5 separate regions of the Homo sapiens genome follow, and all the other regions are linked to region 1. The links come from fine-mapping of genetic effects on gene expression. A gene starts in region 1. Each other region holds a variant in brackets. All regions are shown on one strand. Distances are between the middles of the regions.

Region 1 (5,101 bases):
GACATGGCACCCCTCATCTGACCTGAACCAGAAGGTGCAGTACCCGCCTCTAACGTCAAGGCCAAAAACCCAGAGCCCACCACACGGCAGGGCATATGCTGACCACCTGAAATCAAAACAAACACTCCCTCCAAATCCATCCTTTCCGACTCCTTACCCCAGGACAGACTGGGGGCTGCCAACAACAGGGCAGGGGCTCAGTCTCGGTTCCACAGCCCCAAGCTTAGGTGGAGACTGGGCCCCTTCGCCCTTCAGTTCCCCCATCCCCAGCTAGTCATCAATTCTGAGCCTCGGAGGAAAGCCCGGCCACAGCCTGTCGCCCCGCTGCCTCTCAGCAACGGCAGTTCTCTCGGCCTCTGCGGCTCCTTCGCGCCCTACATCAGGTATTAATATATTACTCATGGCAGCTTCTGAGCTATGAAAGCCCAGCCGTTTTCAATAGAGAATGGTATGGATGAATTCTACAGGAGTGATGAAATGTTTCTTCTGCTCCGGCAATTAAGACAGCATAAAGTCGCCTTTCCTTTGGTGCCACCCCCAACATTAAAGGATTGGAATTCAAAGCCATTCATGCTGCATTGAAACCTCACAATGAAGCTGGAGAATGGAAGTCGATTACTGGGCATAAATATGCAGTAGTTAAAAGGAAAGAGTTATAACAAAATTAAACTGCAGCAACCCCACAATGTGTGGAAACTTCCAGCACTAGAGTCCTCCTGGTAAACATCCATAGGGCATTCTTCTCAACGAGGTCTCTGGCCACAGAGTCCAGATGGGCTGCCTGAGCCGCACGTGGCCAGCGTGCCAGGTTGTCCTGTCCATCTTGCTACAGCAACAGCCCCCAAGGCCTCCGAGAATATGGCATTTGGGGATTTTTATTTTGCATGGCTAGGAAGCTGCTGAACACAGAACATTCTCTCTGGTGCAGGGCTCCGAGGCCACATCTGTCCTTCGTCCCTAGGCCTTCCAGGCCCATATGCAGTCCAGTCATCTTCCCTCCACCCCGTCCCCTTAGCCCAGGGCTCCCCCGGGGGCATGCCTGCTGCCAGCTCCCCTTGCAGGAGAAAGAACCCTAAAGAGGGCAGCGTTACATCTGCCTGCTGAGTACAGCCGGCTTCTTTTCTAATTGATTACTGCTCTCTTTAGGATGGGATTTGATCTCTAAAATAAAAGCCCAGAACACAGAAAGCTATAGAAGTCTTACAATGTGTTGGGGTGTGTGTTTTTAAGGCATGAAAATACTTCCCTCCCACACAAATGTGAGTTCTTCTGGGGAAAGATGCCACAGATCCCAGAGAGTAGAATATCTGGGAAAGCCCGATCAGTCTTAAAAATAGGTAATTGAACACAGATTTTAGAATTCACAAGAGCTACCTGAAAAAAAATTAAATTTCACATATTTTTGATATCCAAAACTCCATTCTGATGAAACTTCTAACTCGGTGGCATTTTGCATTTCCAATTATAATAGAGTAATTGTGTTGCCATAGTTACTGCAAAATTCTGCAATAACTTTTGTTGCTTTGTAACTGCTGTAGTGTATATTTGTGTACAAGCAGCTGAGTTTTCTTAATTCGATCTCCCTCCCTTCCACCCTCCCTCTCCCCAGCCACCACCACCACCTTTCCTGGCTAGGTCCTGAAACCACCACACCAGCCTTCTTTGGACAGTCCCGAAAATAATGCACAGAATTATCAGAAGCAATTAAAACTCCAGGCAACCACGATCATATTACAAAAGAAAAAGTGAAACCAGGTCAAGGTGCAAACCTGCCAGTATCCCCCCAGTCCTGCTGGGCTGGCGCTGGGCCAGGACTGTTTACAGGCTTACTCCCAGGCCTTAACTGCTTCGGTGATTTGTGGGAATAAACAGAAAAGCCTGAACAGAGAAAAACGGGGCGGCAAAGTGACTGCACAGGCCCTTTCCTCCCTCACGGAGAGCAAGCAGAACTGCTCTCAGCAAGCAATTAGGTAGGTCTCTACAGTCATGCAATTAGGATTTAGTGAAGAAAGTCATTAGTTTTAAAATAACTTAAGTTTAATTTCTGCAACGCTTTATTTGAAAACTGTGTCACAGCAGGTCAATTTACAACATGCAATAAAGAAAACACTCATATCAGCTGCCTCAAGTTATTACAAATTTTTGATGTGCATTAAATGAGTACACTGGGTTCCACCCCCGGCCTTTCCAACTGATACGCACGGTCTCCTCCTATAACAGTGTCAAATAATTCAACGCTCAATGTAAATACGAGATAATTTGCTTATGATTCCGTGGTGTGTTTTCGCAACGCCGGCAAACGCGGATCCCACCCCCGAGCGGGACCGGGCCCCGTCTCGGCCTGCTGGCGCCCTGCGGGCTGAGCCGAGCGGGTCCCGGGCAGCCCCCCGCCCTCCCGCGACCCCCCGGGCGCTCGCAGCGGCGACGACAAGCGCGGGGCCGCGGACCCCCGGCAGGGACGTTTTTCTGCAAACTCACAGCATTTGACAAAGTTACATAAACGGCGCCCGGCCGGCCCCGGCGCCCGCCCGCCCCCGCCCTCACTCCCGGCGGCCCGGAGCCCACCTGCTCGGGGGGCGCGGGCCCCGCACCGGGAGACGGCGCCGCTGCCTGCCGTGCCCACCCCCGCGCCCCCGCCCCGGCGGGCGAAGCCGCCTCGCGGCGCGGGTGGAAAGGTCCAGAAGGGGCCGGGCGGCCCTGGGGACCGGCGGGTCCCACGGCGCGCGGCCAGCGCTGGCCCCCGCCTCCCACGGCCGCGCGCGGGGCGGGTGTGGACCGGCGGCGTCCACCTGCCGCGGGCTCCAAGGCCTGCAGGCTGCGCGGGGCGCGGGGCGGGCGGCGGACAATGGCCCGCGGGCGCCGGGCCGGGGCTGCGCTTACCGCGGCGGGCGGCGGCGGCCGGCTCTAGCCCTGCTCCGGCGCTCCGCGCCGCATCTCCTCAGCCTGCGCCGCCACCCGCCGGCGCGCGGGCTCGGGCTCGGGCGGCGACAGCCGGGACGCGGCCACGGCGCCGCCGGGGGCCCAGGCTGGGAGGCTGTTCGGGCGGCGGCGGCGGCGGCGCGGGCGGGTGCGCGGGCTCGGGCTCGGGCTCGGGCGGCGGCGGGGACGGTGCTCCGCGGCGGCGGCCCCACAACCTCCCCTCCTCATTCACAAAAAATTGACCCACGTTGAACCATGATGCTTCTCCCCACTCCAGCGTCGAGCCAGGCGGCGATAGGCCACCCCGCACGCCCGTCAGCCGGCCCGGCCCCGCCCAGCCAGCCGGCGGCTCGCCAACCATTGGCTGCGGCAGCCTTGCGTCACCTCCCCTTGCGGGCCCCGCCCTCCCGCCTGGTTTCTAATGAAGAGCTCGTCAATTACGGCTCGGCCCCGCCTCCCGCCCGCCCGCCCCGGGCGCCTGGCCGGCCTTCCATTGGCCCGCTGAAACCTGCGCACAGCCCGTCTGCTCCCACCCCTCGCCCAGCGGCTGCTCAACCGCGGGGCCGGATGCCCTATGAGCGGCAGAGAGGCTCCACCCCTGCCCGCCTCCCCGCACGCGTCCTGGACCTCATTGGCTGCTGGAGCTGCCAATTCTAGAGGGTGGGGCGTACCAAAAGACGCTCCAGGCGCCAGCCGCTGGGTGCTTCGCGGTTGAGGAGGCGCAGGGACCGGGGGCCAGTAGTGGCCGTAAACACGGGCCCCGGCCGTGTCCGGTCGCACTCGGTAGCCCGCATGGCTGCCTAGCGGTCAGCACCGCATGTCTGCGAGCCTAATTCGCGCTTAGAGGGCACACAATGGGGTGCAGGCTAACGCGGGGAGCCGGCCAGGCCTCGCCGCGGCGTCCATCTTGGATACTGGCAGTGGGTCACGTGGTGCTGCGTGCGCACGGAGGCGCAGGGCGGCCCGGTCACTGAGTGCGCAGGCGCCGTGGGCCTCGCCCTGCCCCGCGGCGGGAACGCGGCCGTGAGGGTGTGGGGTGTAGGTCCGCCAGGCCTGCAACGGCTGCCGAGGGTCGTGGGATGCGCTCGCCGCGTCCCTGCTCAGGCGGAGGGAGCCCGGCCCGCCGCCAGGGTCTCGAGTCCGGGTCCAGGCAGGCGTGGAGGTGGCGGGAACGGCGCACCGCCCGGGTGGGCGTTGTTTTAAGGCCGCAGGGCTTGGGAGGCTTGTGTTGAGTTACAGGTCGGCCCGTAGATCCCCGGAAGCGCCTTTGGTTGCCAGCAGGTGTCGGCGAGGGTCTTCAGTGGCCACCCTCCTGGTGGTGATGTTTCCGTTTCTTTCCAACAGGAGTATGACAACTTTTCAACTTGAGTGCACACACTGTCCCCGGAATCCCGCGTTCCAGGGAGGAAGCGCCTTTGACAGCGCGCGCCGGTTCGTGGGGCCCGACGGCGTGGGCCTGTGGTTGCGGACCTGGCGGAGATGCGCGTTCGCTTCGATTGTAGGCCATTCCTTTTAGGAGCTGAGAAAGGATCCGTTTTTACAGCATTCTCGACCTGTGATTCTTGGTGGGGGAAACTAGTTATGTGGATAAAAATACAGTTAGCAAAATAAAAATGCCAATTTTACATTTCCTTAAATATCTCATTAATAATTAGAAAACTTTGGTCATTGCAAGAAATGCTTAGGCTAAACTTAGAAGGAAAGGAATGGTGAATTAGAGAACTTTAAAACAAGATACAGCTGAAGAAAAGGAGAGCAATTACGGGGTTTTGGAGACTTGGCTGCTGATGGAAACGGTGCACTATCTAATTTTCATGTAGAATGAAACAGGGTCTGTAGCTAGCTAACATCTAGATAAGATTCAGTATCATTTGACAGGATTCTCAAAAACATACAATCACGAGAAAATATTAAAACCTGCCTGTAAGTCTACCAAAGTTAGTTTTTCACGTACAAAGAGAAGTGCCTGCGCAAAAAGTCACGTGAAACGAGCTCTGGGATCTAATGCTTGCAGAGGTAATTTTTAAAAAGTAGATTTCCATTAGAAGGAATGGGTAGCCCCATTGCTGCGTGCCATTTAGTCCTCACAGGAGTCCTGAGAGGCACTCCAGCAGAGTGAGGCACCACGCAGACGTTGGGTGGATGGTGCAAGAACCTCACTCGCCATGTCTGGAAAAGAGAA
Region 2 (5,101 bases), 220 kb before region 1:
CACAAAGACAGTGAAGAGAGCGTGAAATGGTACAACCACTTCAGAAAACTGCTGGGCACTTCCTTATAAAGTTAAATGCACATCTGCCCCGAGACCCAGCAATCCCATTCCTAGCTATTTATCCGAAACACGGAAGCACACCCACAAAAAGCCTGTACAAGAATGTGCATGGGAGCTCTGGTCACAGACCAGCCTTGATGCAACCCACATGTTCCCTCGAAGGTGGACACTTGGAGAAATGATGTGTGTTCATCAAAGAGAATACCACCTAACCATAAAAAACAACAACCTACGTGTACACAAGAAAACACAGGTGAACTGCTAAACAGCAGGTGTTGGCAGAGGGTGAAAGAGCAGAGAGAAGAGGCAAGACTGAAAGACCCTCCGCTGAGCCTCTGCACTTGCAGCTCCAGATCCGCACATTCCACCACAGCCTGGTGTGGAAATACGGGTGGTTGGCCCTCAGTGTCTCCAGGCTCTGATCCTCCGCTGGCTCAATCAGTGGAGGTGAAACCCAAAAATATGGAGGGCTGACTATATTCACATGAAGCCCTAAAACAGAAAAAACTAACGCACAAGGATGAAAATCAGAAGAAGGCTGCCTCTGCGGGGGTGAGGTAGGGTTGGGGGTGCCGAGGCCGGAGGAAACGCCCCAGCGGGTGGAGTGTCCGACCTGTTGACTGTCTACAGGGAAGGGCACAGCCACCCAACAGCACCCTTAAGGGCTGGCATTCTACCGAGTATAAATTATATCTCATATTTCAAAAACTGACGTCGACATAAAATGTTTGTCTTAATAACAAAAGGCAGAAGGTAAAAGAAAAACTGCAGTATTTATGACATACAAATTTTATATAAATGGTTGTTATCCATTAATGAGAACATGACAGGCAGCCCACTAAAACGTTGGGCAGAAAAGAACAAGATGCACAGAAGAACTGTTTAAAAAGAAATCGGGATAAATGTTCAAGCTCACTAGTGAACACTTCCCATTTCACTCACGGTATCGGAAAAGGTGAAAAGGAACAATTTGGCCTGGCGCTGACGAGTGTGGGAAGGTGCAACTGACCAGACGCCCTGAGAGGGACTCCCGCAAACCCAGAGCACCTCTGTCCTGGGACCCAACCCAGGCTCCAGGGCTCCCGCACGTCCTTCCGCTCCTCTGAGATGGCTCCGCTCTCGTTCGCATGCTCCAGGGTTCTGTCTGCACACACTTTCCTCGGCTTCCACACAAACCCCTGGGCCAGCCCGGGGGAAGTGCCAGGCCTCCACAGGTGTGAGGAGCTCTGCCACCTGCCTGCCTGGGAGAGCCTCTCTGCCACCCTCTGTGGCCGCACGTGTCCCGGTCATGGTCTGTCTGCTGTCCCCAGTGATTGTTCCGTTACCAGTTGTCTCTTGTCCCAGTGTCTTGTTTATTTTAGACATAGGGTCTCGCTCTGTTGCCCAGGCTGGAGTGCAGTGGCGCAATCATAGCTCACTGTAAGCTTGAGCTCCTGGGCTCAAGTGATCCTCCTACCTCAGACTCCCAAATAGATGGCAGTTAATTAAAAAAACAAAATTGTAGAGAAGGGGTCTTGCTATGTTGCCCAGGCTGGTCTCGAACTCCTGGGCTCAAGCCATTCTCCCACCTCAGCCTCCTGAGTAGCTGGGACTACAGGTGCACACCACTGCACCCAGATACGTTTTCTTCTTTTTTGATGAAACAAGATCTTGCTCTGTTGCTGGGGCTGGTCTCAAACCCCTGGGCTCACGTGATCCTCCCGCCTTAGCTTCCTAAAGCTCTGGGATTACGAGCGTGAGCTGCCTCACCCGGCCACTGGTGGGTTGCTTTTTGTTGGTCTTGCTCCCCTTATGGAGGAAGAGGGGACGGTGAGAGGGTACGGGATAAGCAGGCATCCTGGCAACCAGAGTGGCCCGAGGAACTTTCTGTGGAGGAAATTTAGTGAATCAGGGGCTCCGGGCTGGCTCCAGAGTGGGGCTTCCACCAGCTGGTGATTCTTCCTGGAGGATGAGGCTCAGGCCAGGGAAAGGATGAGCAAAGCATAGAGTGGGGTGTGTGTGCGAGGCAGCCACCGGATGCCCGAGGCATAGAGTGGGGAGTGCGTGCGAGGCAGCCACCAGACGCCCGAGGCATAGAGTGGGGTGTGTGTGCGAGGCAGCCACCGGACGCCTGAGGCATAGAGTGGGGTGTGCGTGCGAGGCAGCCACCGGACGCCCGAGGCATAGAGTGGGGAGTGCGTGCGAGGCAGCCACCGGACGCCTGAGGCATAGAGTGGGGTGTGCGTGCGAGGCAGCCACTGGATGCCTGTGCTCCATGAGTGGCTGCGCTGGCACAGCAGGACTGGCGCCCATGGGATGCCACCCACGTCACACTGTCGTCCCTGTGTATTCTTCAATCCCTCTACGACAGGGGTCCCCACCTCCGGCCGTGGACGGGTAGCAGCAGTCCCTGGCCTGTTAGGAAATGGGCCACAAAGCAGGAGGTAAGTGGCAGGCTAGGGAGCATTCCCGCCAGAGCTCAAGCTCCTGCTGGATCAGTGGTGGCATTAGATTCTCACAGGAGTGTGATCCTGTTGTGAACTGTGCGTGTGGGGGATTTAGGATGCATGGTCCTTATGAGAATCTAACGCCTGATGATCTGAGGTGGTGGAAGTTTCATCCCGAAACCATTCTCCTGCGTCCCCCACCCCTGTCCACAGAAAAAACCATCTTCCACGAAACCGGTCCCTGGTGCCAAAAAGGTCGGGACCGATTGCCGCTCTACAACAAATGCGCATCACTTCAGAGCAAGAGGTGATAACAAAGGAAAATGAAAAGTGGCTGAGGGGTAGGAAAGCAGATGAAAAGGATTACATCGGACGGGCAGAGGCAACCCCGACAGAGTAGGGCCAGCAGGGATGGGGGGCTGGGTCCCTGAGGTGCCACAGCCTGAGAGCCCACGCGGCGTGCTCAGGGTGGGAGGCGGCACAAGCCTTCTGCTACAGGGCTCGCTGCTCCAAGACAACAGGGCTGCCCGCACGGAGGAACCTGCACATCAACGTGCTTGTGCACCCAAGTGTGCGTTCTGAATGTGAGTGAGCGCGTGGGATTGAGCATGTGTGCTCCAGGTAACTGTGAGCGTGCAAGGGCGCTGCCCTTCTCTGTGGGC[G/A]CCAACCTTCAGCGGCGTTGGCAAGGTGACGGGGGCAGGCGGTGTGTGTCCGGGAACATCTCCTGCATCTTGCTGGGTCCTTCTTCACATGAGAGGCCCGAGCCGACTGGCAAGCTTCACACCCTTGCTGCCCCTGCACAGCCAGCTTCCAGGTGGCCACCACACCCTCTCCTGCGAGAGCCTGGAGGTCCAGCTCAGCCCCCGGGCACCCAGCACACACACCTTTCCAACCCCTAGGCTTCTGGGAAGATCCAGCCTGCAAAAACAGCCTGGCCCAAGCCCTTTCATGGTCACAGGCGGTGCAGGGGATGAGGAATGGCCTCACCAGGGCATCAATCCCGTTCCTGGACCTCGCTTCCCACTGCTGAGGACTCAGCCGGTTTCCACGACCACCCAGAACCACTTGTAAATAGGGAAGAAAGGATTTCAGCTTGCTCACAGCCTCTTCCTACTCAAGATGAGACATGCCAGTCACCCCGCATGTCTGTGACCTGTGTGAAATTTGAATCACATTGTGTCCACGATGTTAAACGTAACATCAACTGTGTAATTTTGTAAGGTAAAACTCCTCATTCTTCCATTCTGTAAGTAAAGCCCCCAGCCCAGACAAGGGACAGAGACAGGCATTGGCCAACCAAATGGCATTCGGCAACCTCAAACTGGCGCTGGCAGTGAACAAGCAAAATGAACATGATTGCCCCTCATGAGTGCCCCATGTGGATGGAAGGGTGTGCTGGGCCGCTGCCCCCCATGGCCCACCCCGAGGAAGAGTCCCCAGGCAGAAACCGCCTGCCCCATTGCAGTGACCCCAGCAGATAGCTCTGGACTGAGGCTGCCCCAGCCTCCAGGACGGAGACCACAGCGCTGGTCTTTCCCGGCCCACCTGGGCTGGGTCATTGCAGCCTGCAGCCCACAGCCAGCCTCCCCGTCCACTGTCCCATGGCAGCGGAAGTGGCCTGGATGGCAGAGCCCCACAGGAATCGCTTGGAGTCCAGGGCAGTGGGACCTCGGGCTCTAGGCAGGTCTGCCCAGTCACACCTGTGGTCACACACAGCAAGGATTTACAGCAGCAGAGAGAGCAGATCAGCATCCAGACATTGGGGACAGGACCTGCCGGCTCTCCTCACAGATGAAAAGCCCTGTCCACAAACACGCCCACCCACCTACAGCCCTCACAAGGGGGGTGGGACTCAATTCCAGCCAGGAGCACGGGGATAGAAGAGCTGCAGAGGTGGCAGGAGGTAGGCCCACACCCAAGGAAGGAGGGAGGAGAGGAGGGGCTGAGGCAAGACCCTACCCAGGCAGGTGCAATGCAGGCTTGCCTTCCAGCAGGGGTGCTGCTCCTGGCAGATGTGTGGGCACAGGCAAGGCAGGAGGCCTGGGTGGGCCGAGGGAGAGGGGGCACCCACCACGCCCGGCAGCAGCGTGTGCGCAGGAGGGGCAGGGAGGGCCGTCAGGGCTAGCTGCACACACCAAGCATCTCACCTGTATCTTTCCCATGGCAAAAACTTAATTCCGAACAACCAACTTAAATGAACTTCTTGGGGATGGTGGGATAAACATAAGCAAGCTCTTGCCGTGTCCTTCATCAGGGCAGCGCTGGCCTCCGAAGACTCACAGGCGGCCCATAGCACGCTGGCTGGAGGGCAGTGCCCAGGCCAGGCTGCCTGGCTGATAAAACCTGCTCCACCCACCTGCTTGCTGCCAGCGCACTTGCACCTAAATATTTAACCTCTCCGTGCTGGGTTAAATGTGGCACCTGCCCCCAAGGGTTCCTGTGAGGACTGGAAGAGGTGGCATGGGGAGAACACTCAGAAGAGCTGGTCTGGGCTTGCCTCCGTGCGGCCTGATTGTCATCAAACCGTCACTTTTGAAAGATGTCGCCTAGAGACGCCGACTTCCTGCAGACACTAAATATCCTAAGGTAAAATCAGGCCCCCTCAAGGCTAGGGA
Region 3 (5,101 bases), 61 kb before region 1:
ACTTGTTAAGTTACTCTACCACATCCATGCACAACCATAAAAAAAAGAGTCCCCAAAGGAAAAACTGTAAAAGCTAGGTGCTAAAGTAACTACAGTATACAGCCATTCATGAACAAACATTAAGCAAAAGAGAGTATCTATAAATGTACTTCATTTTGTGAACTCAAAATTCTTGACATATTTTATTAAAACTTGAGTAGACAGTAGAGAGAGCTGCCATATACCCTACCAATACCACCTGCACATTCCCCGCGATTATTAGCATCCTACCTTACTACGGTATGTTAGTCACAATTGGGAACCAATACTGACATTACTGTCATTAACTAAAATTCTAGAGTTTAGGATTTCCTGAAGTTTCCCACTAATGTCTTTTACTGTATTCCAAGATCCATCCAGGATCCCATCCAGGAATTCCACATCACACTTAGGTGTCGCATGTCCTGAGATCCCTCCTGGTGGTGACAGTTTCTCAAAGGATGCTTGTTTCTGATGACCTTGGCATATCGAGTGGGCCTGGCAAGAGTAGACTGTAGGAAGGGTGTCTACTGGAATTTGTCTGATGTTTTTCCCATGGTTGGACTGGGGCTATGGGTTACTGAGAGGAAGACCACGGGGGAAAGTGCCATTCTCATCATATGAATTGATTTTTAAACACATGGACTAGAATTAACACACACCCACTCCACTAAACTGGTTTTACTGAACAGCAGGTTGTCACACAAACGGCTCCAAGGGAGGGAGTGGAGGAAATGGCAAGGCTCGGAGACACTGCTGTCAGATGCACGTGAGACTCAGCTGTACTCACCGGCGAAATAAACGTTTTGGCTCCGGGAAGGCAGAAAACGTCCACTTTGAGAGAAACTCACACCCTGCATAAGCCACTAACCGGTGGGGACTCCCACGCCACACATCGCACCAATACAAGCTCCATTCACAGAAAACCCCACTGCAAGTCGGTTATCGCTGCAAACTTCCTCTCTCTAACAGGAAGAAATCAGGACTCACGGGAGTAAGCAAAATGAGGCCTAAATCCGGCAAGCGAGGAAATCAAACACTTCCATCTTAATCACATATTATAGCGATGAGCAACCGAGTCAGATGGCCGCTGCTGGGTTTGACATTTTGTGGCTCTTCCTTTCCTCTGAGCTCCCAACTTGCTTCCAAGAATGAGGATAAATTAACATCCACATATCTGACCAGAGCCAACTTCTGCTCCCAAACATACGGCGACGGGGGAGACAGGATGCACCCAAAGTGGCCCCTGGCTGTGCGTGACAAAGCTTTCCAGGAACAGAGCGAGCCAGGCAGGACAACCGGCTTCGGCTGAGATCTGCAGACTGGGCCCTGGCAGAATAAATGAGCGGACTGGACCCAGTCCAGGCTCGGGACAATTACAAATAGCAAGAGAACAAGAAATGCTGGCTTGTTTTTGTACACTGCTATCTCTTCGGGGGCAGAAAGACAAAGAAAAAGGGGAGAAAGAGGTGGATCTGGTCTGGAAATCCCAGGAAAGCCAGGCCATGCAGAAGGCATCCCCCAGCACACCGAAAGCCAGGGAATCTGCAGCCTTGAAGGTGAGGCTCAGCCCCGCCCACCAGCCAGGTGCAGAGGCTGCTCAGAGAGCACAGGCAGGTACTCCAGACAAGCACAGAGAGACAACTCCGCTCCCAGCTGGCTTGGTCTGTGCCACCAGCTGGACGTGTTTTATCTCAGTCCCAAAATGCACGGTTTCTAGACCTCCCGTGGCACCTCTCTCGCGACTCAAAGCCAGTGCAGTGAGTTCCTGGAGGCCCATGCAGCTTCCTATCCACCACGTCCCTCACCACCCTCTAATACAACTGGGGCAGCGGCAGCCTCTACTCGTTACCCTCTCCTCCCGCTTCCCTTCATTCCATCAGTGCCCCAAAATCCCTATTACAGGAGGCCTTGTCTGACCCCTGCAGCAGCCCAGTTATCCCTGAGATTCTCACACCGACCTTCGTCCAACCCCCTAGTGCAAACATCAAATGACACCTATTAAAATTGACACACTAAAAGAACGGCTGCATCTGAGCTCAAAGTTTATTCACACTGAGCTTTTAAAATCCAAAACTACCATTTGATGTTCAAAATTTAAATAGCCACTACATAAAATAGGAAAAAATAAATTCCTTTTATTTTTCTAAGGGAGTTCTCCAAATCCTCAGCAGCTGCTATGAGATTCCCGTGGATTTTTAGGTACAAAGTTCAGACTGAGAGGACCACAGTATTCAATGAGATTCTGAGCTCAGTCCATCCAGAAGATTCCATAAGCATCCAAGGCAGAAGTGAGATTCAGCCACCAACCACATTTCAAAAGCCACTGGTGGAGGATTCCAGAGCAGGTGTCATCCAGGGCTCAGGGCCTCCAGGCTCCCCCCAAGGCTGAGATTCTACCAAAAGCGTAGGTTCGGTTCCCCAGTGGCTGAGTTTTGTTTCCGGAGAGCATGTGTGTTAAACTGACTTGAAAGGTATCCAAAGAAACTGTGAAGGCAGAGGTCATCTGTATTTAAGAAAACTATGTATTTAGTTTACATAAAATCAGAAAATACAGAATCTGGCTTTGAAGAAAACAATGGTAAAGATGTTATATTGACAAGTAATTTTAACCAATGTCTCTGAATGAATATACCAACTCAGATACATCAGCCACCTGCTGTTCCTATCCAGGTGAAGGCCGGCTGCCCTGCCCTCCCCTTCTGTCATAAGAGGGTCTGGGGTTGCCTGTAAACACAGGGCTGCCCCACTGCTCACTGTCCCAGTGAAGTCCTTTGCTCTGCCAGTTTCCATCAGCTGCAGGGCCAGGTGCCGACAGAAGGCAAAAGTCAAAGCCCAGTATCTTTCTAAAGAAACAGGGCCCGATGAAAGGAAGCAACCTCAGCCCCAGGAGGCAATGGGCCCAGTCCAGGTCACCCCGGACACAGAGCCACCCCTGGGCAGTGATCTCCCAGCTCCTGCCCCTGTCCATTCCCCAGGTGAAGCCTAAATGCTCTGATCTGGACATGGGTGAGGAGCACCAAAGCCATGCTCTCTCGGGTGATGTGAGCAACTCA[A/G]CGGAGACCTACGTTGTTCTTTTGTTCATGAAGATAGTACTGAAGTTTGAAATAACATCCCTCAGCAGAGCTCCAGAGCAGAATCTTCCCAGAGAACCACACATGTGGCCCGCGGCCCCCTGCAATCTCCTGGCTAAGGCATTAAAAACACCATCTCCTTAGAAAATGCAGTCCTTGAGGCCACACCCATGCAAATCAGTCCACCAAATCCACTCATAACAGCATCCAGGTAACTTCCAAAGAAATGGAAACACTGATAAACACAAGAAACACCCTCCCCACATGTGATTCTCATGCATCAGGTCCTGCAGACCACAGAGAGTTCAAGGAAACCGCAGCCAAGAACCAAGAAAGCCACATCCATGCTCAGGCCAGGGCCACCGGCCTTTGTGACTGCTTCCCTCAGCAGAAGTGCTAGCAGCTGAGTAGGGAGACATCAAGACATCATGACAGAAAGAGGCTGGGGGCCTGAACACAAAGCAAGAAGAGTGGGATGTGTCCCCACCCCAGATACCCTCCTAGTTTCTAACACATTCAGGCCAGGATGGTCCCTGCAGCAGTTGGGGCATGGGGTCCTGCTGGTGCTGCTGCTCCCTCACCCCAGGACACCCCAGCTCTTCCCTGAGCCTCAGCTACACCAAGCCAGTCACAGGGCAGTGAGCTCAGCTGTTCACAGTAGGCTGTGCAAGCATGGACACAGCCCCACCCGTCTTCCTGAACCATCGAGAAATTACGTCTTACCAAATCCTACTGAGGACTGGCGAAGAACAAAAGGGAACCAAATCACAGATAGATGTGAAGGCAGATAGACAATTCAACTGTTCTCAGAAGCTACAGAGGGGCCCCAGTGGGGGCAGCCCCACTGAGCTCCAGTCTGCCACCCAAATGCCTGTTGGTGCATCTCCTAAAGGCTGGGCTGCATGGGACAGAGGAGGACCATGGTGGGGTGTCAGCACTTCCAGGCTGGGTACTCCATCGGTGCTGCTGCTTAGAGATGCCTCTGTACCCTTCCAGCTGTCAGATGGCCTCTGCACCTTATCATTCTGTTACAACAGCCTGGACATGGAGACACACACCATCTCTCAAAAACAGCCTTTGGGGATGCTCACGTGTATGTTTGTGTTCAGAAAAGAACCACCTGCCTTGAATGAAGCATCTGCTTCAAAGCCACAGGGCTCCCCGTGCTGAGGGCCACACTGAGAGGACATCTGTGCCCTGCAGTCCTCGGCCCAAGTCCACCCCTCCAGGCCAGGCACCCTGGCCCCATCCTGATGCTGCAAGACCAAGGATGAGAAGCCCACCAGAGATAAAGGGCACTGAAGATCTGGCCCCCTCTTCAGCAGTCACACCCTAGTCCCTGTCACTCAGAAAACTGGGCTCACTGCAGCACCCACTAAACATCTCTAAGGGGATCCTAACCTCCCATCTCCACCATCATCAGAGCCACCATTACCATCAAGGACTCGGCTTTCAACACGTACAATGCATCGGGCACTACAAAAACTAAAACTCCTCATCTCTCTGGTTTACCAACGAAAACCTCTGCTTTCCATGTCTCCAGTTTCCCCTAGGGCCTCCTCAAATGTTCTAGAACTCTTTTTATCCACTAGTACATCAGAAAGAAAAAATTAACCTTGCCTTCCTCCCTCCCCGATCCTTTCACAAAAACAAGGCAGTGCTATGGAAGCACATGAGAGAGACGTGGGGCGAAGGCCGCCTTTGCTCCCGCACAGCCACATTGAGACTGCAGGTGTTCAGGCAAAGACAGGGCCAGGCAGCACCTCGGTGAGCCTGCAGCAGGAAGGTTTGTGTTGTGCAGTGTCAGACCGGGATGAGGAGACAGGGCTGGAAGAATCAGCCCCACCTGATTTGGATTCAGTCCATGTGAAAACAAAGAGTGTCAAGAATTCTGCATCACACTACCTAACAGGGAGGGAGGAACTTCCCCTCAATACGGCCTTACCCTAGATGTGAAGAGGTGAGAAAGGCTTTCAGGACAACACATGGAAACCCTGAGTGTGCTCAGA
Region 4 (5,101 bases), 350 kb before region 1:
GCCTCAGAACTAGTCCCCTTTTGTATGTGTCTGACTTTTTCAGAGACAGAGGAGAATCTAAAGACCAGAAGATACTAGAAATTTATGGTGGATAAAGGATTAGCATCCCAAAATAGATTTTAAAGCTTTCTAGTTCACAGCCCCAGTAATGAAACAAATGGGCGGAGAACAAATGGGCGGAGAAGACAACCCAGGAATCCTTCATTCCATCTGCTTATTGGGGAGCAATGATGTCTTCATCTCTTGGGCTAGAGGAGTAGACCAGCTTCCAACTTTCTACTCTAGCACATGAGATGGACAAACCCAGGGAGGCGCTGCAGGATCTGAGCCTGAGGGTCCTTGGGCCTTGAGCAGAGGAAGCCTCTCCCGTGAGTGTGGGCTGGCCTCCTGCACTGGCTTCTATGCCCATGGAGATGAGGCTATAAAAAGACTGGCTGTGTCTCCTGGTGCATTCTCCACTTGCTCCTAGATCACGTGCTGTGGGAGACGCTGACGGCAAGGCCTCGAGGCGGCCCTGTGGAGAGGCCCATCAGGCGAGGGAAGGTGGCCACCTACAGCCACAGGCATGTGCCTGGAGGCCAACCCCCAGCCTGGTCCCCCAGCAGCTGGGCCCCCAGAGGAACCCTGGCTGAGCATTTGACTGGACCCCCAGGGAAGACGAGACAGGGACCCTGCTGAGATGCACCCAGACTCCGGACCTTCAGAAACTCCAAGGTAATAAATGTCTGCTATTTGAAGCTGCTAAGTTTTGAGGGAATCTGTTGCAAGCAATAGATAACTAATATACTATAACCAGTAAACATGCCAACTGAATCAGTAACAATAACAAAACCACTCCAGCCTCAGTGGCTTCAGGCTCCAAGTACCTCTTCTTATACTGGGGCCGACTGAGCCCCCCTTGCCACAGGGCTATGCCTTGGGGCCAGCAGGGCCCTCTGCTCCAGAGGCCTCTTTCGGGGGCTCAAGGGCAACCTGGGTGCCGTGGGCTGGGTTTCTGGGATGCAGACTGGGTGGGCTTCAGTGTGCAAGGTGGTTGAGGTGTCCTTGGGTTGGCAGCTGTGACAGGGGAGGAGGGAAGGCAGTCAGCCTAGGGAGGGGCTCAGGCACTTTCCGGGAAGCCAGCAGGCCTTGAGTTGTCCTAAGTTGGGCCAAGGTGGCCTGGTGCTTACGCTGCCCGGCACCCAACTGATTAGTCACTGGATGCGGGAGCCTGGGAAGGGGCGCTGCTGAGGGTCAGGAGCTGTGGCTGGTGTTTGGACTCCAGTCTCAGAGGTGTGTTTGCCCGGCTGTGGGCAGGTGGCTAAGCCTGGGCCCTGGGCCTCTCTCTTTGGCCTTGTTCTCTCCAAGATTATTTCCAGCTCTCTATGGCTTGGTAAGTGTTTTGGGGGAGAAGATAATGTAAAGATTTAAATTACTGGACATTTAAAATGAAGACACTCCTATGGGACCTGATTATGCAGGCAGAGGGGGACGGGCCTGCCGCTGGTCTGGGTCTAGGGGCCGTCCCCATGGGGTCCAGTGATTCCCATGCAGCCATCCGGATGGGACCCAGGGCACTGGCCATTCGGCCCACAGGGTCCCAGACATGCGAGAGCCAATGAGGAAGAGAGCGCACGGGCAGAAACCAGAGCTGGGAGGGCAAGTAACGCAGTCTTTATTTACACCACAAGATAACACGTTGCGTGATGTGGTACAGAATACTGGACTCCAGTGAAGTGGAAAGAAGGTGACCGTCAGAAGAGGATATCATTGGTCGGTGAAAATCCACCCACACAAAACAAGACAAGAATGAGAAAACCAAACACAAAACCTCCAACTCCACTGAGCAAAAGAAAGAACCATCGGGCACGTCCAGACAATCCAAGAGAAACGGATTAAATTACAGAGGTGAATGGTGGCCACGGCCAGTGCGCAGCTCACGGCGGGCGCGAACAGGCATCAGGTAGGTTACAGTGTCGTTACAACTTGGTTTTCTACCACATTCCGTAAGAAGCTCTTGGGTGAGTAAGGTTCAAGCCCCCTGTATAGATAGATAGATAGATAGATAGATAGATAGATTATATATGTTTGTCATTCTCATCAATTGGAAAATAGCGCCTCCACTATGGAGCACACACGGCAAAAAAAACAAACAAAAACTGTTCGCTTTCTTTTTCTTTCAATAGCAGACTTTTAATCAATGCCAGAGACAAAGTGAGGCCGAGCTAAGAACACGCTCAGCTTCGTTACAATGAAGAAATGGTTTCCTTTCGATGCAAAGTATAATTGTAAACCACAGTGCTCGCACAGTTCACGAC[T/C]GCTTAAAGTGAAATCTTAGCCATACATCACCTAAAAGTAATTAAAAAGTCAACACAGCTGTGCGGAAAAGGGGACTCTTTCGAGTCCGCCCAGTTCTCAATCAGAATAAACCGTCACAAGGCCAGTGAGGGCGGGCGGCGCTCGCCTGGCCCGTGGAAGGAGATAAAAGGAAACAAACAAAACAAAACAAAACAAAATTCCTCCAAATCAACTCGAGAGAGACAGGCAGTTCACTGTGAATTCTGAGTAGTTTCCCTAAAACACTGTTTCCACATAAATACAATAAACTCTATTATTGGTATGTCACAAGTGCTAGATAAACTTTTTTTCTTAATATGACAAATGTTTAAGTAGTCCTTTTTATTTTTCTTACAATAAAAAGTACAATTTCTTAAGAATAAGTTCAATAAGACGCAAACTTCCCCGCCCTCCTCTCCTTCAAGGTTTTGTTTTACAGAAAAATTTCCATCTTTTGTATCTGCAAATGTCATGAGAGGGGAACAGAAAGGCATTTTTCTTCTTCCCCAAAGCTGCCGAGTTTGGCGTGCAAAATCTGTATACAATATAAAGTCATGCCGGTCGTACAGTCCATGCAACCTCCAGGTGTAGGAAACTTAAAAAAATATATTCATATATATTTATATCTATATATTTATATATGTATCAATGCCCATAAAACACGTGGGCCCAAAGTCTACAAAAAGAAGAATGGAATGAGCACGTGGCTGTGACCAGTAAAGAAGGAATGTTCTGATCAAAAAGAAAAACAACAAAGTCCATTGCTAGTGCTGCAAAAATCAAACTTGCTTTTGTGTCAGACCATTACGAAATGGTCCTTCCCCTTGCAAACAGATTTTCAAAAGAAGTAAAGAAAAACTGAAACACCTTGACAAAGTGGCCCTCCAGAACCAGAGCCCTGGGACGCTGGGGAGGGGCGGCCAGTCCCAGCGGGCCACGGCCTCCGGGACAGCCGCCTGCTGGTGGGGCGTGGGCACGTGGGCACGCTGCGGCACGGCGGGAAGCCGCGAGGGCAGGGCAGACGCCAAGAGGCCCAGTGGCGTCATCAGGGTTTCCCTCAAAGGGATATAAAGTGCTCGCTTGCTGACTCCCAGCCAGTGCCCCCAAGGCCTTTGCAAAGGAAGAAAAAGGCTAAAGGTCCAAGGACCCACAGGGAGAACACATGAAGGAACCCTCCCTGACGTGGTCCCGCCTGCAGACGCCGAGGCAGATCCTCTGCCATCTGCCCTGGACGCTTGCTGTGGAGAAGAGCCGAGTGTGTCTTCAAAGAAAAGGCTACACAGTAATGCTCTCAGCACATTTGTGAAGCTGGAGTGAGCTGACAGATGAAACGTGCCTCCCCCTGCCAGGCCTTTGCAGAGGGCGTCTCCATTTGAATGAGATTAGAATTAAGTCCCCCCACTGATAACCTGGCCACTGAGCAGTCCATGTTATCCCATCATCTGCTTAAAAAAAAAAAGTGAGATGATGCATTCCTCCCCATAAGCCACGGCGGGGTAAGAGGGCAGGTGGCAGGATCCCCAGAGGGCTATGCAGAGAATGAGGCCAAGGAGGCCAGAAGAGCCTGCTAGCTGGGCCCTGCCACTGCTCTGTGCCATGAATGGGGAATGGACCAGCTCCTCTTGCCAATCTGGGCTTCAGAGCAAAGAGTGGCCACCAGGGAGGGGAAAGTCAAACAAGTCCCAAGACCGTTCTGCCTGCTCTCAAACCACTGTCTCAGAGCTGACCATCAGCAGCCCAGTGACCAAGTGAATCCAAGAATCTGCACTCATTTGGTCAAAAGTTTGAGTTAATTTCAGAAGCTACCCTGTAAACTTTACCAAACTCCGAAACTCGGCTCTGGGTCCCTCCTGAGCACGGTGTGTCTGAACTTCTGCCCCCAAGTCTGAACCCAATATACACTTTGGAATGAAACTGGTGGCTTCATGTGCTGGAAAATAAGTTACCAGTAAAACGTGACTGTCAGTTACTGTTGAAGAGAAAAAGAGTAAAGACTGGCTGTCCTGGTCAGGCAATCATACCCTCCCTGCAGGTTCACCAGGCAACAAGGGTCCCTGGGTTCCTTGCAGCCACAGGCTCCAAAATCCAGGGCTGGCCACGTGGCTGCAGTGGAAAAACCCAAGTGGGTAAAGAGCCCCACGTGTGCCCCATGCATTGCTGACATGCTCAAAAGGTCTTTGGAAAACTCAAGTTAGAATTCTATCCTGACGATGTGGTCAGAGAAGTTTAAACATGAGTTTCATTAATGCTGACTGCCCCCGGCATCTGGCAAGCCTCCCAGGGTGGCCGGGCATCCTAAGCAACCCTCCCTGCCCTTGCCACGGAGGGGAAAAACACACCACCCCTCGTAATACTACTAGTGTTGAAAGTTAAAAAGAGCCCCTGGGCTTCTTTATACAGCTCCTAGGACAGACCAGGAAAGACACAATCGTTGGTGTCACTCCGAAAAGACCTACGGTCCCTCCTCTCACTTTCTGAAAATAGAATCTGACAGCAACAATTCTGTACGCTGCAGAAAACTCATCGTACAAAAATAAAAACAAAAATAATTAAAAACCTTTGAAAGGTAAAAAAAAATGTACAAGCAAGAATTCAGAAAGGAAAAAGATTTAGACATTATTACCATTCAGAAAATTGCTAAATGGTGAGGAAAAATGTAAAATTCATAAAACAATGCTTATTCAGGATCTTTTTGTGAAAAAATTCATACAAAAATCAACAGCAAATTTATATTCTTTGCTATAAAAACTCATTAGGTACATATGTGCATGAAGGCTTGGAGACG
Region 5 (5,101 bases), 80 kb before region 1:
CGTTTGACTATAACACTGGTGCACTGGTGAGAAAAATAACCTTGGTTTTATTCTGTATTATTTCACTTAAAAGTCAGTTTCCAAGAACCTCCTGAGGTTAATGAGGGCTTCCCGTCCTGAATGTAGCAAGAACGGTGACACTAGATGACCATTTCACTTAAAAGTCAGTTTCCAAGAACCTCCTGAGGTTAATGAGGGCTTCCCGTCCTGAATGTAGCAAGAACGGTGACACTAGATGACCAGTAGCCACCACCACGACAACAACAGACTCCGACAAAGAACCATCAATGATGCTGAGACTTGTGGGTCAGTGCTCGGGGAGTAGCAGGCTGTCTGCACAGTCCCAGATTATCTCCCTACCAGATACCTGCTAATTATGCAGGAAACAATGTAACTTCACAGTGGAAACACCCGCCAGCATCACCTTCACTGAGAGCTTCCGGGCAGCATCAGCAGCAACGAAATACTGCGGTGGCCGCCAAGCCCAGCGGCATCACTGGAATCCAATCACGAGGAAACATGCCGAAATCCCAAGCTGAAAAACATTTTACAAAATAGCTGCCCCTACGCTTCCAAAATGTGAATGTCACGAAACATAAAAATGACGAGGAGACTGTCCCGGAGCAAAGGGGACTGGGGAGGACGTGAGAATTGAAGGCCCTGCAGGGCCTGTCATCTGCTGTTGATAACGAGACATCACTAGACTATCAGCGAAACATAAACAAGGCCTACAGATGAGAGAACAATGCCTGCTCGCTGTTATTTTCCAACTCTACTCACTGACCGTAGTTGAAGAGTGACCACGCTTATCTGAGGCAACATGGCCTGGATTATTAGTTGGGGGAAGGCATCACATCTAACACTAACTTTCAAACGATTCTGAAAAAAAAAAAAAGGATGCATATCAATAAACAGTAATTCTTTGGACTATTTTTTGCTGATTTTCTGTAAGTTTGAAATTACAGCAAAATTAAAAGTTAAAAAGAAAAAAGTTAAGGAATAAAATTCCCCATTATTATTGGAAGACACTAATCTTCAGATTCAGGAAGTCCAAAAAAATATCAACAGGGGTAAGTGAAAACGCTTACAAAAATGTAGAACACTAAGACTACAAAACACCTAGAGAGACACAACGGATTCCTGCCAAGGAACGGAACAGCCCCAGTGGAACTGAGTGAACCAATCACATCCTCAGAGCCCTGGGGAAGAGCAGCTGCCTCCCCAGCACTGTCTTCTGTGAGGGATCATTCAACAATGAAGGAAAAGGAGGCAACTCTCAGACGAACAAAAAACGGAACTTCTGCAGGAATTTCTAAAGGATATTACTTCCAAAGGATATTACTTCCAGAAGAAAAGTAAGAGCAAAAAACCAGAATATCTGATATTCAACAAGAAACAGCAAGCAAGTAATATCCACATATAGGAAACTTTAAGGAGCAGTGGCCATAGGAAGCTGTGACAATGAAGGCAGCACACGGCCGCAGCCTCCCGTTAGCTGCTGGAAGGAAGCCACACACACCCAGATATTTCAATTCTGCAAATGATTAAGAAAACGAAACCAACAACAAACATAAAAATGGGTGACCCATGTCAGAAGACACTGACAGCCACAGCAGGCTGGCGGTCAGGCACAGGCCAGGCGAGGGCCACCTCCCGGGACCGAGCAAGGCGCCCTGGTCAGCCTGAAGACACTGGCACTAGGTCTAAGACGGTGTGGCCGTGCTGGAGGTCACGCAGAGTTAAAAGTAGCTTACCCGTGACCCGGCACTCCCATTCCCAGGCAGGAACCTGGCAAAGACCCAAGTTTGCGTGTGTCAGAAAACACACAAAAGAATGTCCACAACATCATGTTTGAGAGCAGCCACATCTGAACATGAATCAAAGTTGTGAAAATTCACAAAATTGAATGCAAGACACTAATGAACACCAGTCACCGACAGCTACAGGCAGAAACCTGGTTCTCAAAAACAGTCCTGCCTGAAAAAGAACCCACGAAATAGAAAACGTATAGTATAATTCTATTTACATGAAGTTCAAAAACATAAAACTAAAATCATATTGTTTAGGAACATGTGCATGTATGATAAAACTTTTTTTTGGAAACAGCAGAATGAAAAGCAAACATGTAAATGTCCTTGTAGTGGTCTCTGTCTCACAGAGCACACGGTCACTGCTATTGTATTGCTTTAAATGATGCAGATAATGTCTATGAATTGTTTAATTCTTTAATTAGAGATTTATAATTAAAATTTAAAATAAATGCGTGTGGAGGGGATAAAAACAGAATGACTAAGCGGGCTGAGAAAGTGATAAATCACCTGTAATCCCAGCACTTTGGGAGGCCGAAGCAGGCGGATCACCTGAGGTCAGAAGTTCAAGACCAGCCTGGCCAACATGGTGAAACCCCGTCTCTACTTAAAATACAAAAGTTAGCTGGCGTGGTGGGAGGCGCCTGTAATCCCAGCTACTCGGGAGGGTGAGGCAGGAGAATTGCTTGAACCTGGGAGGCGGAGGGTGCAGTGAGTCGAGATCGCACCATTGCACTCCAGCCTGGGGAACAAGAGTGAGACTTCATCTCAAAAAAAAAAAAAAAAAAAAAGTGATAAATCAAACAAACAAAAAAATTTAGAAGGAATTATAGAGAATGGAATGCTGATCTCCACCAGTGACAAATGACATAGGTAAATCTAAATTTGCCAAATATGGAAATAAGGAAATTGGTAGGACTCTTCTGTTA[T/C]GTAAAAATATGTATTTTAATCAAAACTATTTTGCTGTTGAACTTTTCTAGCTATTAATTATTGGCAAATACAAAATCCATGATTCTAGTGGGTTTCTGATAATCTATAAAATTTTCTGAATCTTTTTGAGTCTTTTTATGTGAATTTATTTTGGTTCTTCCCATCTTAATGAAACTGCTGACATCTCAAGCCATACTGAACACATGTGCTACCGTAAGGTCAACCTCAGAACACAGCTCTTGTTAAGACAAGGCCTCTAGAGTTTTCCAACCATGAAAAAGATTCATTTTTGCTTTCAAATGATCCCCAACTTGTAAGAACTACATATTCTCTCCAACTTGGGTATTTTAAAATCAATTATGAAAACTGAAATAATTATTTTATCTAATCTTTTTTATTTTTCAAAACATTCTCTCATATTTACATGATTTATACCGCTTTCCTTGTATAACAACTGTCCTGTAATAAAACCTTTGATAACGAATAACTACATAATGTACTGTTATTTTCTTTTCCCCAATATTCTATTCAGGGTTTTAAACCTATGTTTACAAACAAAATGTGCTTATAACGTTTGCTTTATTATTGTCTCTTGCAGGTTCTAAAATCAAGATACTCTAAGCTTCATAAGATTAGCTTGCAGCCAGGCGCAGTGGCTCACGCCTGTAATCCCGGCACTTTGGAAGGTGAAGGTGGGCGGATCACGAGGTCAGGAGATCGAGACCATCCTGGCTCACACGGTGAAACCCCGTCTCTACTAAAAATACAAAAAATTAGCCGGGCGTGGTGGCGGGCGCCTGTAGTCCCAGCTACTCAGGAGGCTGAGGCAGGACAATGGTGTGAACCCGGGAGACGGAGCTTGCAGCGAGCCGAGATAGCGCCACTGCACTCCAGCCTGGGTGAAAGAGCAAGACTCCGTCTCAAAAAAAAAAAAAAAAAAAAAAAAAAAGGTTAGCTTACATTTTTCTGTGTTTTGAGCCAATCTTAAATAAGGTGAACGTGTGTAAATGTTGGAAAAATATTACATTATCCCTGAAGGAGTAGCAGCTTTCAACAATTACCTAACTGGGTCCTTTGTGGGGTTCTCAGAAGTTCTTCCTTTTAGTGACAACCAACTCATGCTGCTTCCTGTCAGAGTACAGGATGCTTTTCTTCTAAGGTCTGACATTTTATAGTTACTTGCTCTGGCCCAGTCAAAGCCCTCCAAAGCCCTGCCATAGAGCACAGAACATCACAGCTCCCGCCCACACCAGGACTTCCCCTAGACACTGGCTTCATCATTCTCAGGGCAGCATCTATCCCTGATGGCACATCCGGTTGTTAAGGGGGAGGGTCTTCACTGCGAGTCGTCCAGGTTCTTGACATGTTGAACAAAGAATTGGACAAAACACACAAACAAAGCAATGAAAGAATGAAGCAACGAAAGCACAGATTTGTTTAAGCGGAAGTACACTCCACAGAGCAGGAGCAAGCTCCAGAGCAAGCTGCTCAAGACTCCCACTTGCAAAATCTTCTGGGGGTTAAGTACCCTTTAGAGGTTTCCTACTGGTTACACCCTATGTAAATGAAGACTTGGCTCATGACCAATCAGAGGCCAAAGTGAAGTTACACCCTATGCGAATGAAGACTTGGCCTGCAACCAATCAGGGGCTGAAGTGAAAGCTCAGCCTGCAACCAATCGGATGCTGAAGTGAAGGCCCCCTGTCTCCAGATCCTATTCTACTGCCTTGCAATGACAAGTTTAGGGGAGTAAAGCCTTACACTTCAGAGCGCAAGCTCACTGGTTAAGAGTCAGTTGCTTGGCACAGCCCCTTGGGCCAGTGACTTCCTTTCTCAATGCCTCTGTTTTCTCATCTGTAAAATACAGATGATGTAAGGTTAGTAGGACCCATCCGTAGGCTGTTGTGGGGATCACAGCTGTAAATATGTAGAAAACACTTAGCAAAGTGCCTGTGCAGGGCAGACTCCATCACTGCCAGCCATATTTACCATTATGTAGTTGTTTATTTACCCATCTACTGTTTGACTTTCCCACTGGCACTGGGTGTGGCAATGGGTGGGGGCTTTTCCTGTGTGGTTCACCAGTAGACCCCAGTGCTTACAGCAGCCTGGCATGTAGCAGATGCTCACAAGAGGTGTCTTGACTGGCTGAGTGCTGGTGTGTGGACGGGAACCAGCCTAAGGAAAGCACTCTTGAGACTCTTCATCCTGCCCGGGTGTGGGTAGCCTGGGTCTGTCACTCGGCCCCACACCCGGGGCCCCACTCCTGGCTTCGATAAGCGACGTCACCAATGTCTGCCCCAGCACCTGGACAGACTCTTGTGGCCCTTCCTTCTCGGGAAGCCCAGAAAGAACTGCAGTGA

Alleles and levels. Positions count from the first base shown, and alleles are read on the strand shown. Sizes are in standard deviations (SD) of each study's normalised expression. Not every link is listed here.
For the expression in esophagus muscle of the gene that starts at base 3,209 in region 1, G is the low allele of the variant in region 2 and A is the other (moderate effect, 0.56 SD a copy in GTEx).
In carriers of allele C in region 4, the expression in CD4 T cells of the gene that starts at base 3,209 in region 1 tends to be lower than with T alone (moderate effect, 0.70 SD a copy in CEDAR).

Evidence for each region.
Region 2: its variant is fine-mapped to the expression of HDAC4 in esophagus muscle (GTEx, PIP 0.97).
Region 3: its variant is fine-mapped to the expression of HDAC4 in whole blood (TOPMed, PIP 0.93).
Region 4: its variant is fine-mapped to the expression of HDAC4 in CD4 T cells (CEDAR, PIP 0.95). The same link has a PIP of 0.9 or more in NK cells, monocytes, monocytes after LPS, monocytes after interferon gamma and neutrophils.
Region 5: its variant is fine-mapped to the expression of HDAC4 in whole blood (INTERVAL, PIP 0.91).

Annotation. Positions count from the first base shown.
Region 1 is chr2:239,397,812-239,402,912 of GRCh38, forward strand. It overlaps HDAC4 (histone deacetylase 4), which reads right to left and starts at 3,209. Exons shown (of 27, transcript NM_001378414.1): 1 at 3,167-3,209. It overlaps HDAC4-AS1 (HDAC4 antisense RNA 1), which reads left to right and starts at 3,625. Exons shown (of 2, transcript NR_135575.1): 1 at 3,625-3,725; 2 at 4,264-4,546. RefSeq lists silencers at 2,858-3,027, 3,038-3,477, 3,498-3,617, 3,888-4,157 and an enhancer at 4,288-4,417.
Region 2 is chr2:239,176,869-239,181,969 of GRCh38, forward strand. All of the region lies in intron 4 of HDAC4 (histone deacetylase 4), which reads right to left. Among named protein-coding and RNA genes, the nearest start is that of HDAC4-AS2, 14 kb to the right of the region's middle. The variant G/A (reference allele first, on the strand shown) is at 3,149.
Region 3 is chr2:239,336,476-239,341,576 of GRCh38, forward strand. All of the region lies in intron 2 of HDAC4 (histone deacetylase 4), which reads right to left. Among named protein-coding and RNA genes, the nearest start is that of MIR2467, 13 kb to the right of the region's middle. The variant A/G (reference allele first, on the strand shown) is at 3,075.
Region 4 is chr2:239,046,537-239,051,637 of GRCh38, forward strand. HDAC4 (histone deacetylase 4) reads right to left here. Exons shown (of 27, transcript NM_001378414.1): 27 at 1,632-5,101. Among named protein-coding and RNA genes, the nearest start is that of MIR4440, 20 kb to the right of the region's middle. The variant T/C (reference allele first, on the strand shown) is at 2,298.
Region 5 is chr2:239,317,805-239,322,905 of GRCh38, forward strand. The region is part of intron 2 of HDAC4 (histone deacetylase 4); the gene reads right to left. Among named protein-coding and RNA genes, the nearest start is that of MIR4269, 15 kb to the left of the region's middle. The variant T/C (reference allele first, on the strand shown) is at 2,738.